2 separate regions of the Homo sapiens genome follow, and region 2 is linked to region 1. A link means that fine-mapping ties the variant in region 1 to the expression of a gene that starts in the linked region. Tissue or cell type: whole blood. Region 1 holds a variant in brackets; the other region holds the start of a gene. All regions are shown on one strand. Distances are between the middles of the regions.

The links. PIP is the estimated chance that this variant, and not a neighbour inherited with it, causes the effect.
Region 2: LGALS3 starts here. The variant in region 1 is fine-mapped to the expression of LGALS3 in whole blood (INTERVAL, PIP above 0.99).

The regions. Positions count from the first base shown.
Region 1 is chr14:55,277,198-55,285,197 of GRCh38, reverse strand. The region is part of intron 1 of FBXO34 (F-box protein 34); the gene reads right to left. It also overlaps the pseudogene RPL34P28. Among named protein-coding and RNA genes, the nearest start is that of FBXO34-AS1, 9.1 kb to the right of the region's middle. RefSeq lists an enhancer at 5,488-5,587. The variant TA/A (reference allele first, on the strand shown) is at 3,942.
Region 2 is chr14:55,124,365-55,132,639 of GRCh38, reverse strand. It overlaps LGALS3 (galectin 3), which reads right to left and starts at 3,388. Exons shown (of 6, transcript NM_002306.4): 1 at 3,340-3,388. LOC124903319 reads right to left here. Exons shown (of 3, transcript XM_047432036.1): 3 at 7,173-7,590. The coding sequence ends at 7,536. RefSeq lists an enhancer at 2,553-2,742 and a silencer at 3,093-3,692.

The DNA.
Region 1 (8,000 bases):
TTCTCCATGTTGGTCAGGCTGGTCTCAAACTCCTGAACTCACGTGATCCGCCCACCTCGGCTTCCCAAACTGCTGGTATTACAGGCGTGAGCCACTGTGCCCGGCCGGAACAATTCTTGAAAGAAGCTTTACAACTGATCTTTGCAGTTTTTTTTTTTTTTTAACCTCACCTGGCCAGAGAGAATGTTCTCTGCATTTTAAAATAGGACAATTAAAAGCAAGATAAACATGGTAAAGATTCACAAAACAAAACAAGACAACTGCAGTAAGAACCAAGGTAAGGCCAGATATGGTGCTCAAGCCTGCACTCTCACAGCATTTTGGGAGGCTGAGGAGGGAGGATCACTTGAGTCCAGGAATTCAAGACCAGCCTGGGCAAAGGCGTGAAACCCTATCTCTACAAAAGATACAAAAATCAGCTGGACGTGGTGGCACATGCCTGTAGTCCCATCTACTCAGGAGGATGAGATGGAAAGATTGCTTGAGCCTGGGTGGTTGAGGTGCAGTGAGCTAAGAATGCACCACTACACTCTAGCTTGGGTGACAGAGACCCTGTTTCAAAAAAAAAAAAAAAAAGTAACAAAATTTTAGGTAACCACAAACACTCAAAATCCAGAGGCTAGGTCCCTGAATCAAATAAAAAGAGAAGAAAATAAATCATTCACTTTTTTTTTTTTTTTTTTTGGAGACAGAGGTTCACTCTTGTTGCCCAGGCTGGAGTGCAATGGCACAACCTCGGCTCACTGCAACCTCCACCTCCGAGTTCAAGAGATTCTCCTGCCTCAGCCTCCCGAGTAGCTGGGATTACAGACATGTACCACCACGCCCGGCTAATTTTGTATTTTTAGTAGAGACAGGGTTTCACCATGTTGGTCAGGCTGGTCTCGAACTCCTGACCTCAGGTGATCTATGAGCATCAGCCTTCCAAAGTGCTGGGACTGCAAGCGTGAGCCACCGCACCCAACCCATATACTGTAATTTTTAAGTGTAAAAAAATTTTATACCCTACAGTCTTAAAAATACATGCAATTAGCACTAGGCATGGTGGTGCATGCTTGTAAGTCCTAGCTACTCAAGAGGCTGAGGCAAGAGGACTGCTTGAGCTCAGGAGTCTGAGGCTGCAGTAAGCTATGACCGTGCCACTGCACTGCAGTCTGAGCAAAAGAATGAGACCCTACCTCTAAAAATACATACACATACATACACATACACACACACACAGACACACACACACACACACACACACACACACATAGTCTTAGAATGTAAAGTCACGTTTTAATTTTAGGAAAAGTTATAACCTCCTACCAGCTAATAAAACAAAAATGTGAACTCTCCAGTAAAGTTAGTATTTTTTTGGACTTTAATAACCAATTTTATTATATTTACCTAAAAGGGGGGAAAACACAAAGTGTTAAATAAAAAGAATAAATTCTTGGCTGGGCATGGTGGCTCACGTGCCTGTAATCCCAGCACTTTGGGAGGCCAAAGCAGGCGGATCATGAGGTTAGGAGTTCAAGAACAGCCTAACCAACATGGTGAAACCCCATCCCTACTAAAAATACATTAGTCGGGCATGGTGGTTGGCTCCTGTAATCCCAGCTACTCAGGAGGCTGAGGCAGGAGAATCGCTTGAACCCAGGGGGTGGAGGTTGCAGTGAGCTGAGATCACACCACTGCACTCCAGCCTGGGCAACAGAGTGAGACTGTCTCAAAAAAAAAAAAAAAGAAAGAAAAAAAGAATAAATTCTTACAGACTGCTATTTGCCAAAGAATATAAATATCTGTAAAATTATGCTAAAAGAAAAAGTGATGGAAATATAACTAATACACTTAACATACTACCTCGCATATAAAATAGGTTGTAATAAATCGGCTGTGAAATTCCACAAGTTAAAAATGTTGGTGTATTTTTTTTTAGCTTTTTATCAATCTAATCATAGCCTATGTTAAGTAAAATACAGCAAAGAAAATGTCAAATGAAAGACGATTCAATAAAGCATAAAGCTCTTAAGGCCCTCCCTGGACTTATTTTCAGGAAACATTTTGATAGTCCTTCGTTCCACAAATGAGCTAAAATATAGTGACGATGGTAGAGCTCTTCATCCAAGAAAGAAGACAGCCTGAACAAGAGAAACCTATTCCCTAGGGTTAAAGTGACTAGGGTTTGTAAAAAAGTACTGACAACCTCCAGAGAATAATCCTGATGACTGAACTTGAAATAAAACCTCTTGCCCTACTTTGGAAACAAGTTTGCCTCTCCTGGTTTCTGGACAATAAAGCAAAAGTGTCCTTTGAGACTACCTTACGAAACTCAAATTTCATCTTCAGAAACTCCAACTAATCAATAATTCCCTATTCTGTAGTTCCAAGAATGATTCTACAGTTTCAAATAAACTACTCAATGAACAAAATTAATCTTTTTAATTGTCATAAAGCAAATGAACACCAACTCCTACAAATGAATCTGCTAAAAAGTGTCTAAGTTAACAAGCAGAGTAGAAAACACAGCAACTGCTTTTTTTTCCGGGGACATTGTCTACAGTCACTCAGAATGGTCCAGTGTATGACATACAATCATCAGCTTTCCTACAACACAGCCTTCAACAGAAATAGGGTGTCCCAAGCCCCTGGCAATAGAACTGTTTACCAACCAAGAAGGTTGGGAAAGGCACAAGATTGGCATGTGGCATGTGCCCAGACAGACTTCGAGGGGTTTGTGCCGTGAGATTTAAAGTTCTTATAATGCTGTCTACAATGAAAAAAACATGTCAGCAGGGCCTATCGTGGTCCAATGTGTGCTAAATGAATCCATGACAGGATCAAGGGTGCCTTCCTTATCAAGAAGCAGAAAATCATTGTGAAAGTGTTGAAAGCACAAGCACAGAGTCAAAAAGCTAAATTTGGCGGGGCGCGGTGGCTCAGGCCTGTAATCCCAGCACTTTGGGAGGCTGAGGCGGGCGGATCATGAGGTAAGGAGATCAAGATCATCTTGGCCAACATGGAGAAACCCTGTCTACTAAAATACAGAAAATTAGCCAGGCATGGTGGCATGCGCCTGTAGTCCCAGCTGCTCGGGAGGCTGAGGCAGGGGAATCGCTTGAACCCGGGAGGCGGAGATTGCAGAGAGCCGAGATCGTGCCACTGCACTCCAGCCTGGCAACAGAATAAGACTCTGTATCAAAAAAAAAAAAAAAAAAAAAAAAGCTAAATTTAAAAATGAAACTTACTGGAATAAACAATTCATTTCAAAAAAACGTAAAGCTACAAATTTACATAGCCCAGCTATGTCCTTTCTAAAGATAAGGAAAAGCTAAGCCTTCGATATGTGCCTACAATTCAGGGATAATATATGAAGCTTAGAATTTATTAGGGGAGATAAGGCTCATTACACGTGAAACAAAGAGCAACAAGCAACAGTATACAATGAAATGCCAACGTGCTGAGTGGCTAAGTACTCAATATACACCATAGAAATTTGGGAAATGGTAAGGATGTTACAGAGGGATTGGTGAGTCCAACAAGGTTTTATGGGAATAGACTTCGTAAAACAGATGTAATATTTGGAGAAATGAAAGGAGAAAGCAAGGCTGAGGAAACTGCCTGAATACCAGGTTTATTGCAGGGAGTCCCAGAAAATGAAGAGGAAGGGTGGGACTATCTTATGACGTCTAAACCTAGAGCAGGTTCTCATTTGGAGAGTAACATCATCCCGCTGGAATTTTTGTCCAACTAACCTGCCAACTGTGTATAAGATTGAAGGGGGCAAATATGGAATTATAAAAAAACGTCATAGAGACAATTACAGAAATCTAAATTCACAATGATCATTGGTCTAGATCTGTCCTATCCAATACAGCAGCCACTAACCACATGTGGCCTTTGGCACCTGAAATATTAGTAGTCTGAACTGAGATGTGCTTTTTTTTTTTTTTTTTTTT[TA/A]AGGAGTCGGGTCTCACTCTGTCATCCAGGCTGGAGTCCAGTGGCACGATCATAGCTCACCATAACCTAAAACTCCTGTGTTCAAGAGATTCTCCTGCCTCAGCCTCCCAAGCAGCTAGGACTACAGGCATGGGCTACCATGCCCAAAGGGATATGCTTTAAGTCTAAAATGCACACCAGACTGTAAACTATTTCAGTAATTTTTATATTGATTTCAATGTGAAATCATGTTCTGGATATATTGTGTTAACGTATTTTTTAAATATTTTTCACCTGTTTCTTTTTCCTTTTTTAATGTGGCTAACTAGAAAATGGTAAATTACATACATACAAGGTTCATATTATAGTCATCCCTCAGTATCCATGGCGGATTGGTTCCAGGACCTCCCTTGGACACCAAACTCCATGGATGCTCAAGTTCCTGATATATGGCTGGGCGTGGTGGTTCACGCCTGTAATCCCAGCACTTCGGAAGGCTGAGGCGGGAGGATCACGAGGTCAGGAGATCGAGACCATCCTGGCTAACATGGTGAAACCCCGTCTCTACTAAAAATACAAAAAATTAGCCGGGCGAGGTGGCGGGCACCTGTAGTCCCAGCTACTTGGGAGGCTGAGGCAGGAGAATGGTGTGAACCTGGGAGGCGGAGCTTGCAGTGAACCAAGATCGCGCCACTGCACTCCAGCCTGGGTGACAGAGTGAGACTCCATCTCAAAAAAAAAAAAAAAAAGTTCCTGATATAAAATGGTGTAGTATTTGCATATAACCTACGCACATTCTACCGCATACTTTAAACAAACTCTAGATTACTTAAAATACCTAATACAATGTAAACGCTATGTAAAGAGTTATGCTGTACTGTCATGACAAGAAAAAAATAATCTGTACACGTTCAATACAGATGTAATTTTTTTTCCTCAGGTATTTTCCATCTGAGGTTGGTTGGATCCATGGATGATAAACCCACAGATAGAGGGCTATTTCTACTCAACAGCGCTGCTCTACATAGTTATCTCAACTTTTCTGGTTCTCCCATTCCCATTTTTTAAAACATTTTTAACATGTACCCACAAATATGATGTGATATATATACATGTATGTACATATATCATGTACTAATATATTTTACATACATATAAAATGTATATAAATACTAGTAGGATGAGAAGAATAAACAGAAGTTTCAATATTTTTCTTTCCACAATCCAATGGACTAATCCACACACTACCACACTGGAGGTTTAAGATATTATCAAAGAGACTAAACACAAAAAGGCAAATGCAAATGAAAGTTTCACTAAAACTTAATGACTGGTTGACCATGGAGGTAAAGGGAGAGGATGGACATAATGCTATTTGCTACTCAGTATCTACTGGCTCTTTATTTAGGGGCACTTAGCAAATTCTTCCAGATCCTGCCATCCACTGCTTCTTGATTTTCCCTTGGAAATCCACTTCCTCTCCCATGATGCTGGTTAGGAGGGAATGACCCCCAGCTCCAGAGGTAGGCCCAGGCTGGCTAAACTAATTAGCAAATCCTATTTCTCTTGCCTTAATGGTTCATTCAGAAATGACAACATAACCCAAAGTCAATGAGACACAAGAATACATTTCTTGAACTTCTAGGAAGAGAAACTCTTCTAGCAGTGGTTCTTAAGCTGAGGTTCACACATACTCCAAGGGTTTATATATAGAATTCAGGGTGTCGTTAAACTGAGAAAAACAAATTACATCTTTACTTTAACCTCTAACTGAAATTTAGCATTTCCTTTCACTGTGAATTCAGCCAAAACACCACAATAGTATTATATTAGCAATATCTGTTCATTTTGTCACCAGTAGAAATCACAGTTTATTTATTTTCCTATCACATGATCTTTCGTTACAGATACCTCCAAATAGTAATAATACTCATCACCACTTGGAAATTATTAGACCCCACTAAATATATTTTTTCCTTTTTTTTTTTTTTTGACGGAGTCTCGCTTATGTCGCCCAGGCTGGAGTGCAGTGGCATGACCTCAGCTCACTGCAGCCTCCGTCTCCCGGGTTCAAGCAATTCTCTGCCTCAGCCTACCAAGTAGCTGGGATTACAGGCACCCACCACCATGCCCAGCTAATTTTTGTATTTTTAGTAGATGGGGTTTCACCATCTTGACCAGGCTGGTCTCCTGACCTCGTGATCCACCCACCTCGGCCTCCTAAAGTGCTGGGATTACAGGCGTGAGCCACCACGCCCGGCCTTCACTAAATCTCTTTAATAAAGAAACAGGGTGGGCATGGTGGCTCACGCCTATAATCCCAGCATTTTGGGAGGCCAAGGCAGGAGGATGGCTTGAGCCCAGGAACTCGAGACTAGCCTGGGCAACATGGCGAGACCTCATCTCTACAAAAAATTTAAAAATTAGCTGCGTGTGGTGGTGCGCACCTGTGGTCCCAGCTACTCAGAAGGCTGAGGTGAGAAGATCACTTGAGCCTAGGAGGTTCAGCTGCAGTGAGCCTTGTTAGCACCACTGTACTCCAGCCTAGGCAACAGATCAAGCACCTGTCTCAAAAAAAGAAACAGGTATTACCAACAATTTTTTAAAATACTTTTATAACTACATTTTAATGTAACTAGTTTTCTTTGTACAGTAGTCCTATGTATTTTCCTCTGGACTTGATAGCATGAGGTTGTAGGGCTTGAGCTGCAACAAACATGTGAACACAAAGGGACCAAAACCACGGAAGCTGAGCTCATTAAATAAAGGAAGAGAAAGATTAAGTCTGATCACACAAGTATAACTGAATCAAGCCTCAACTTTGGACTTTTTAATATTGTGAGCCAGTGAATTTGAGTTGGTTTTCTGTTACATCTGCATTAAAAAAATCTAAATGATACAGTTTTCAATAGTTTCTACCTCAGAAAACTGGAACAATACCCATCCCTTTGGACTGAAAAAGGAAACTTAGAAAAAGCTTAACTTCGTCACAGTGAGGGAATCTGGGGAAAATGAGTTCAGTTCCTCACAAACTGAATGTACTGCAGACTCAATAATGCAATAAAGCTCTCACATGCACTTCCTGTTTTACATATAGGCAATGCTAAGGTTTCACATATGACCTAAGTATGGGCAAGCAGACATACCTGCATAAGATACAGAGAACAGAAACAACAGTCCTACCCAAGGAAGTTAAACTTCTGGTAGCGGCTTTCTGATTCAACGACATGGTTCTCGGTGCTGCGGTGGCAGTAGCCCCCTTGGCAGGCAAGCTCTGCAGTGTCATTCAGGGGTTTGTTTCTAGAAGTTCAGACTAATCTGTTGATTCAGCCCGCTCAAAGTTTACATATCTTTCTCTCAATAAATCCTGTTTGCTACAACTACTTAAAGCAAATGATCTTGCTACAGGATCCTGAATAAGCCAAAGTAAAAAGGGATATACAAAAGAAGCATCTTCCTAGTAGTCAGAAACCCAACAAGAGTTAACAGTTTATGAATAAAAATGTAGGCACGACTTGGATAGAATTATAACTGAGAAGCCCTAATTCAAGATCCACTCCTAAGAAACTTGCGTCCTCTGAATTCATGTAACATTTACTTATCTCTCTTCAGATACCTAATTACAACCCAGACTAAGCCCGTGGTACATGCCAGTTACTCAGAAGGCTGAGGATCACTTGAGCCCAAAAGTTCAAGGCTGCAGTACACTATAATTGGGCCTTTGAACAGCCACTGCACTCCAAACTGGGCAAGATCTAGTCTCTTTAAAAAATAATAATAAAAAAAAAAGCAGCCAGGCATGGTGGCACACACCTGTAGACCCAACTACTCAAGAGGCTGAGGAAGGAGGACGGCTTGAGCCCAGGAGCTCAATGTTACAGTGAGCTATGAATTGCACCACTGTACTTCAGTCTGGGCAACAAAGCGAGACTGTCTCAAAAAACAAAACAAAACAAAAAATTAAATCATATAGCAAGGGCTATGTTCTTCATTTCTTTATACTCTGAACACCAAGCACAATGCGACCCTAATGTACTTCTAACAAAGTAGACCATTTGAACAAGTAGTTTCAGAAGGAA
Region 2 (8,275 bases), 150 kb after region 1:
GCCAAGATGGCACCACTGCACTCCAGCCTGGGAGACTGCGAGGCTCCATCTCAAGAAAAAGAAAAGAAAAGCATTATAACTGATGCTCTTTTGAAATCAAGATTATTAACCTCAAAACTTTCAGGAAAACAAAAAAGACATCTATTCAGATAAGTATCATCCTTACTTGCCTGAAATTTTTTTCTTTTTTCTTTTCAGATGAGTAGTTTACAGAGAGAGACATACAATCAAATGTCACAAATCTTCCCACTCTACAGACACTATAGATATGTGAACCCCACCCTGGTGTTTCCAGGATCAGAGAATTTTGAACAGTCAGAGGGGAAAAAAAAAAAACTTCAAAAAATAAACTAAAAGTAGAGAAATACTAGCTGGGTCTCCACATTTGTAAACACCTACAGTAAGCAGTTCAGTGTAGCTTCAGAATAAGGAATTTAAACATGAGTTAGAATACAGACCATTTTAATCGGCTGTTAATTGGTAGCTTTTCCCTTTAACAAAGAGTAGCTATCCGCTGCACTATGCTATTCTAGGCCCACCCAGCAATCAGTCCAGTTGTCTGGGTTCCCAGGAACACTTCTGAAATGTCTGCTCATAAAGGTCCCTGACCTGTGCGCAACCGTCACAGAAGAAGACTACTTCCTGAGCCCCTAGGCACTGCCCTACACTGCTCCTCAAGTAACACAAGAGGCAGTCTACTTCCTGTCCTTGCTGAAACACAGAGCAGGACTTGAGGAAAGCCCATTTGCCAAAGACAAATTCAGTGATGCTAAGTTGGAATAAGGGGAACTGGTCCTTTCCTAGGATTTCTTTCTCATCATAGCTCCCTGGCATCAAGGAAGGTAGAGTTACTTTCTGCTTCTCATGACTGATCTTCCCCCCTACGGAAAAGCTGAACAGTTCAAAAGAGAACACATGACACTTGGTCAATAGCGAACTGGAAGTATACAGCAAGCACAGCCTAGACTGGTTCTTAAGTTACCCACTCAGAATTTAATGAGAAGATCCAGTTCAGGCACCAGACACAAGGAGCTACCCTTGAGTGGGAGCCTGTGTCCCAAACGATCACAGGAAAGAAGAGCTATGTTTGAGATCAGTTACCACAAGTATCAAGTACATAAGTTTACAAGCCACTTGGCATTTAAGGTCAACACGAGATTCTGAAGGCATACTACATGAACAAAGGTCTTGGCTGCAGTTAAGGTTTAGAGTCTGGCTAATGAGGGTTCTATGTAAAAAGGTACCTAAATTATACATGAGACCAGCATTAGCCTCTTGACCTCACTAAGTGAAAAGTCTTTGTAAAGCACCTATGCATATTTGTAGTACAGCGAACTATCATAGTTTAAAGACCGCTTAACAGAGCGAGACACCTATTCTACTTGGACACAGCTAGTTTTCGGGGTCAATCCATCAGGCGGTACTCGTCCTCTTCTGCTTCTTACGTAACTTAGTGAGGCATCCTCCTAGCACTTCTAAGTGCTAAATATTCAAGGACCATCATCAAACTTCTCCCCAGAATCTGGACTAAGTGCTGATTTTAAACATCACCTCTAAATATTATGAATTTAGGAAGTTGCTTAAGTCCCCCAAAGATCAAGGATGGGGTATGATCATCTTTAGAATGAGAGACCCTACCCTAAGGATTGAGAGTCAATGTCTAAAAGGGAGACTATTGTTGTAGAAAAGTAAATGATCATTATTCAACTTTACCTTTTATGGAAACACACAATTTCCTAGTATGAAATGTTTATAAACTTGAGGTAGGCCAGGCGCAGTGGCCCACGCCTATAATCCCAGCACTTTAGGAGGCCGAGGCAGGCGGGTCACCTGAGGTCGGGGGTTCGAGACCAGCCTGACCAACATGGAGGGACCCCCCCCCCCCCACCACCACCACCACGAAAAATACAAAATTAGCCGGGCATGGTGGCGCATGCCTGTAATCCCAGCTACTCGGGAGGCTGAGGCAGGAGAATCGCTTGAACCCGGTAGGCAGAGGTTGCGGTGAGCCGAGATAGTGCCGTTGCACTCCAGCCTGGGCAACAAGAGCGAAACTGCGTCTCAAAAAAAAAAAAAACCTTAGGTAAACAAATCAGAACTTTGGAAGCTGACGAAAGCTTTTTCTTCTCAGGCCCTGTGCCCAAGTAGTTAATTGTATCAGTCTCATTTTCTTCAGAATTAACTGAGCCTTCTCCCATTTCTTCCCCAGAATCCTAGAGACAGCCTGAGTCACTGAGGTCCAGGTGTCCTCATTGCGCAGCAACCCAATTCCCAGAGTCACTTTACAAACATTCCGCAGTCTCTGGAACCCGCATGGCGAACTTGAAGGGTAAGGCTGAAACCTAAGTCCCAGCCTCCACCATGCGTCCCCGACTCCCTGGACCTGAACGCCTACTGCTCAGAGGGCAATCGTTTTAGTGTTTCTATTTGAGCACCCGATAATTCAGAATAAACTCTCAAACATGTTGTGAAAGCCCCCCGGTAGGGCTCTGCACGCTAGGACCAACATTTTGCCACACCCACCATTTCCTGGGCACAGACAGTCTGGGCAGGGAGGGGCATTTGATTCGGAAAAGCTTAGAGTTTGCAGTCTTTGCAAAGCCGGGTCATGCCCACTCAGGCCATGGGGCAAGCACCATTTTCTGTGGGATCAGCAACCAGACAGCGGCTGCAGCCCGGCCGCAGCTGGTCCCGGTGGAAGAACTCATTCGCGCTCCACAGCGAGATCTCCTCCAAGTCCAGCCTCAGCTGATGCTCAAAAGGGGCCGGGCCAGCCAAGCTGTGGGTCCCGGGAGGCGCCCTATGCAGTCCTGGGAAGTCCCTTCGCTCCCCCGCGGCCGTGATCTGGGGAAGGGTGACGGGGCTCCAACCCCAATTAGAGAAACTGGAGCGGCCGTCTGGTTTGCTGAGCGAGCCCCTCCGCCTCCCCTCGCAGCGGGACCTGGTGGGACTGGGGTGACCAGACTGCGGCTCGTCACCGGATGGGGCTTACTCTGGGGCCGCAGAGCGCAGGCGGCGGAGGTGCGACGGCGGCGAAGCCCACGAGGCTCCGCAGAAGGTGGCCCGTGCCGCCCCGGGGACGTGTGTGGGTCTCGTAAGGTGCTGCCAACCTTCCCCGAACGCCAGCGCCCTCGATAATCAAAGGCGACTGCCCCGGGCCCAGATCGCTGCCCGCCGCCCCGCTCCTGGAGGGCAGAGCACAGGCTGTGGGGCTCTCCGCGCGCGCCCCGGCCCGGTCCCGGGGAGCCGAACCCTCTCCGGACCGCGCCCCAAGCAGCGCCCGGGCGCCCTCTCCCCTGCCCGGCCGGAGCCGCGTCCCCCGCGCCCCGCGCAGCTCACCGCTCGTTGGCTGGCTCCGGACGGCTGCTGGCGAGGAGGTGCTGCGGGCGCCGGCGGGGCGGTGGCTCCGAGCCTCAAATACTCCCAGCCCCGCCCGGCCCGCCTCTCCCGAGGCGGGGCGGCGCCCCTGCCCAGCCAGTCCTCTCCCCGGACCAGGCTGGGCGAGCCCCGCGCCGGCCAGACACCCCGAGCCGCCGCCGCAGGGGCGACCAGGAAGCTCCCGACGGGGAGAGCGCGGGCACTGAGGGGCGCGACCTCCGCTGCCACCGTTAGGTTCCGTGGCGCTCCCGGGACCTGGGCTGCGGCCGCGTCTGTCCCCCGCCCTCTCCAGAATCACCTGAGTGAAGAATTCGCTGAGAGGAATTCAATTAATAGGTTGCTTTATTTGTAGAATACAAAACCAAAAATCTTTTCAATGTCTATTCCCTAGGGAACTGACTACAAATTGACTACTTATTCTAGATCAATAGGCCTAGTCTCAAAGCAATTCCCTTATAAAGCAATTAATCAGACAACTCTTTAACACATTTTACACAGGAAATTCACATTATATATATATATACCCTCCTTTTAACTTCACCTTATCTTTTTGTTGGAAGAAAGAGATAAGTATTATTATCTCATTTTTACTGTCAGGGTGCTATAGTCTGAATGTTTATATCCCGCCAAAGTTCATATGTTGAAATCCTAACCCTCACGGTGATGTATTAGGAAGTGGAGGCCTTGGGAAGTGATTAGGTCATAGGGGCAGGGTCCTTATGAATGAGATTGGTGCCCTAATAAAAGAGGCCGGAGAGAGACCCCTTGCCACTTCCACCTTGTGAAGACACAGCCAGAAGGCTCCCTCTGTGAACCAGAAAGCAGGCCCTCACCAGACATCAAATCTGCTGGCCTGGATCTTGGATTTCCCGACCTTCAGAACTGTGGGAAATAAATGTATATTGCCTATAAGCTACCCAGTTTATGATATTTTGTTACAGAAGCCCAAACAGACTAAAAGAGAAAATGATTTACTTATCCAAGCTCACTCATGTCTAGGAACAAAATCCAGAAATCCTGGCTCTTACACTTTACCTGGAAAAGCACCAGGCCAAAGAATCCTTGCAGGTTGGAACAAGGATCTCTGAGGAAAAAAAAAAAAATTAAGGGGGGTAGGGGAAGAATCTTTGCAGGGACTGGCTTATGTAAACTATGGAGAAAACCAGGTATCATCTGGTTCCTAAATAATTCCTGTAGCCCTTATAGTAACCAATTAATAACATAAAGATAAATTATTTCCTGCAGTTTTTCAACTTAGGGAAATGTTCCTGTGAAGGACTCACTTGATGGAATTGAGAAGCTGTCTTGGCATTCTCTAGGATAAACTTGAAAGTGTCTTAGTGGTTGGCACGGTTCCTGCAACATCGTCCCCTCTAGGCTTGCACATAGAAGTCACAGTGTGGCTGGGGATTATTTATGCAAGTTTGAACTCTTATCTGAAGAGGTAGCCTGGCAACCAATTTATTTGAATGGATCACCCATAGTAAATGACTAACCTCTGGGTAGTAAAAAGGTATCACCCAAAGGAATGCCCTTGGTCTCCAGGGAAAATGCTATAAATCTTAAGACTTTGAGTCATGAGGCCTCATGGCCAGGAGTGGTACCCTTAGAGGGTTAGCCATTGGTAATAAGAAAAGTAGATAGCCAAATGAATTGCTGTGGAGGCAAGGGATGAATCACACTCTTGCCTTTTCTTCTGGTCATTTCAGAGATAGACAAAGTTCATGCCCTGGCTACTTAGGGGGCTTGCTTACACCTGATTGTATGATCAGACATGCTTTTGGCTTCCCTTCCTTACTTGTACATCCCCATGAATACTTTGGTGCCAACTTCATGCCCCATAAAGCTAACAAAAGGATCCTGCTATGATCAGGGTGTGCCTGGGAATTTATAATTTGTACACATGCAATAAACGGCTCTTTATTACCCAATCCAAAGTCACATCCCTTTTCTAAGATAAGCGTAAAAAGGAACCCAATAAAATCAATTAAGATATCATTGAGTAACTTCTATGTACAGCTCACTGTGTTATTTGAAATAGGGACAAGGCAAGTGTTAGCCCTCAAACAAAAAGGCTGTCTGGTTTCTACGGATGCAGAGATTGTAAGCCGCTGATAAAAGCAAGGATTCTAAGAGAGGCATCTCCACAGGAGGGAAAGGAGGAAACTTGGGAAAGCAGGTGGCTGTCCAGAAGGTCAGGAGGGAAGCTGCGTGAGAACTTCAGTTAGAGCCAGAAGAGAGTAGGAGATGAAGATGAGAACAAAAAGGGAAAGTCTTTAAGGATAAGCAGAAAAGAGAAAGAAAGACAGTAATTGGAGAAGAAAGCAGAGCCGATTATTTATTTATTTATTTTATTTTTTTGAGACGGAGTTTTGCTCGGCTCACCGCAACCTCCACTCCCAGGTTCAAGTGATTCTCCTCCTGCCTCAGCCTCCCCAGTAGCTGGGATTACAGGCATGCACCACCACCCTGGCCAATTTTTAGTAGAGATGGGGTTTCTCCACGTTGGTCAGGCTAGTCTCAAACTCCCTACCTCAGGTGATCTGCCCACCTCAGCCTCCCAAAGTGCTGGGATTACAGGCGTGAGCCACTGCGCCCGGCAGCAAAGCCAGTTTTTTAAAGTCACCTTTTAAATAGGAAAATAGAACCAGAGAGAAAGGAAAAAGAGAGGAGAATAGAAGAATTATGAAAATATAAAAAGTGAGTGAACCTGGAACAAGCCAGAAAAGAGGAGAGAAATTTCCCAGAAATTAGCACTACAGTGGGCCAGATAGGGAAAGAATGTCTCACAAAAGCTGAAGTTCCTATGAAATATAAACAAAAATCTTGGTATTAAGTCGTGTAGACAGCAGAATACAGGAACAGCCAGAAAAGAGCAAAGCGGCTGCTTTCCAGTTTTCACATTTGGACCCTGGGCAGCCCAGGCAAGTTTGGCAATTCTGTGTCTACATGGTGTTAACACATCTGGGTGACAAGTGAAGAGTTGAGTCAGGCCTCAGGGCACTTGGTCTTTCTGGTGCCAACAACTGGAATCTGGGTGGCTGGCAGACTTAGGGACTGAAAGAGAGGCTGAGTGTTCTGGGGAACCATTTATGCCTTGAAGACAAAGTAATTTCCAGTTTCAGAACGAAATGACTGTGGCTGTCTGCTGTTTCTAGTCCCAGTTATCTATATGTACTTACTCATATCCAAGGCCTTTAGTGGGGGCCTAATATATGCCTCAACTATTTTGCAAAATCCACCCCTTCTAGCTTGCTGAATGAACAGGCTCACCAAAACCTGGTCAACAAATGAAATAGGGTTGGTGGCAGTAATGTGCCCAATGATGGTTTACAAGGTCTTACCACCTGGGTTGCAACTAGAGCCCCCTGGGACAGAGTGAGAGCCAGAACCTGCTTAGAAGGGAGCTAGCCCCTCCTGCCTTGGATGGGCAGGCCAACAGCATCAGGGAGAAGAGGTGTCCCAGGTGCCACCGCAGGTGCAAAACCCCTTCTCCAGCCCAACCTCAGCCCTGGCCACCTCAGCCTAACCTTCCTTGTTTGTCCTTCAAGCCTAACCCAGGCCTGTCTTCAGCACTAGCCATCACCAAACCCACATTCCCACCAGTCACTTCTGTCTATAGACAGGAAGTGGCTGCTGCCACTACTACTGCCCTTATTGCAGCCACACCCAGGGCTACGCTCTTAACCACGCTACAGCATTAACCTGCCTCTTGAGGAAGTATAAAACCAGGGAAAGGGATAGAGAGTGTGCCAGCTTGCTAAGGCTGCCATAACAAAGCACCAGGAACTGAGTAACTTAAATAACAGAAATTTATTTTCTCCCAATTCTGGAGGCCAGAAGTCCAAGATCAGATGTTGGAAGGGTGGGTTTCTTCTGAGGCCTCTCTCCTTGGCTTTTACGTCTCTCTATATCTTCACATGGTCTTTCTTATATGCCTGTCTGTGTCCTAATCTCCTCTTGTTAGAAGGACACATTCGTATTAGATTAAGACCTCATTTTAACTTAATTGCCCCCTTAAAGGCCCTATCTCCAAAAACAGTCACATTCTGACGTATCCGGGGCTCGGATGGTACTGACATAAATGTTTTTGCAAAGAGAGAGGGACACAATTCATCCCATATCAGAGAAGGGCAGGGGAGGAGCTGGCTGTCAGTTCAGCAAGTGTGGTCAGCAGAGATTTCTCCAAGGAGGTGGTATTTGAGCTGAGACCTAAATAAGGAGTAGGGGCAGGCTTGTAAAGATCCGAGAAAGTGGGAATGGCAAGAATAACACTGTGAGTTGCAACAGGGACCTGTGCCAGCATAGACACCCATGGGGCACCTCCTGTCCACTCCTCTCAGAATCCCCTCCCTGCCATCCTCATAAAGTGGCCCGGCAACCGAGCTAGCACTTCATGACCTCTCACCTTAAGTGGAGTTGGGAGAATTGTGGAGTCCTAATTGGGGGCTGGGGGAAGTGGAGAATTGGGCTGGTGGGATCAAGGGAAAGCAAAAAGAGACAGCAGGCTGGGCGCGGTGGCTCACGCCTGTAATCCCAGCACTTTGGGAGGCAGAGATGGGTGGATCGCTTGAGGTCAGGAGTTCGAGAACAGCCTGGCCAACATGGTGAAACCCCATCTCTACTAAAAATACAAAAATTAGCCAGGCATGGTGGCAGGTGCCTGTAGTCCAGCCTGGGCAACAGAGTGAGATTCTGTCTAAAAAAAAAAAAAAAAAAAAAAAGGCAGATAAGCTATAAGTCTGCCTTTCTTCATGGTCCAGGACACATAGCCCTCTTGCGCAAATAACTCACAATCTGCCTGCTCCCAGCTCTCTCTAGACCCTTGGCTGATAGAAAAAATGCACGTTAGCTCACTGCAACCTTGGCATCATCAGTACTACACAAAACTCTTCAG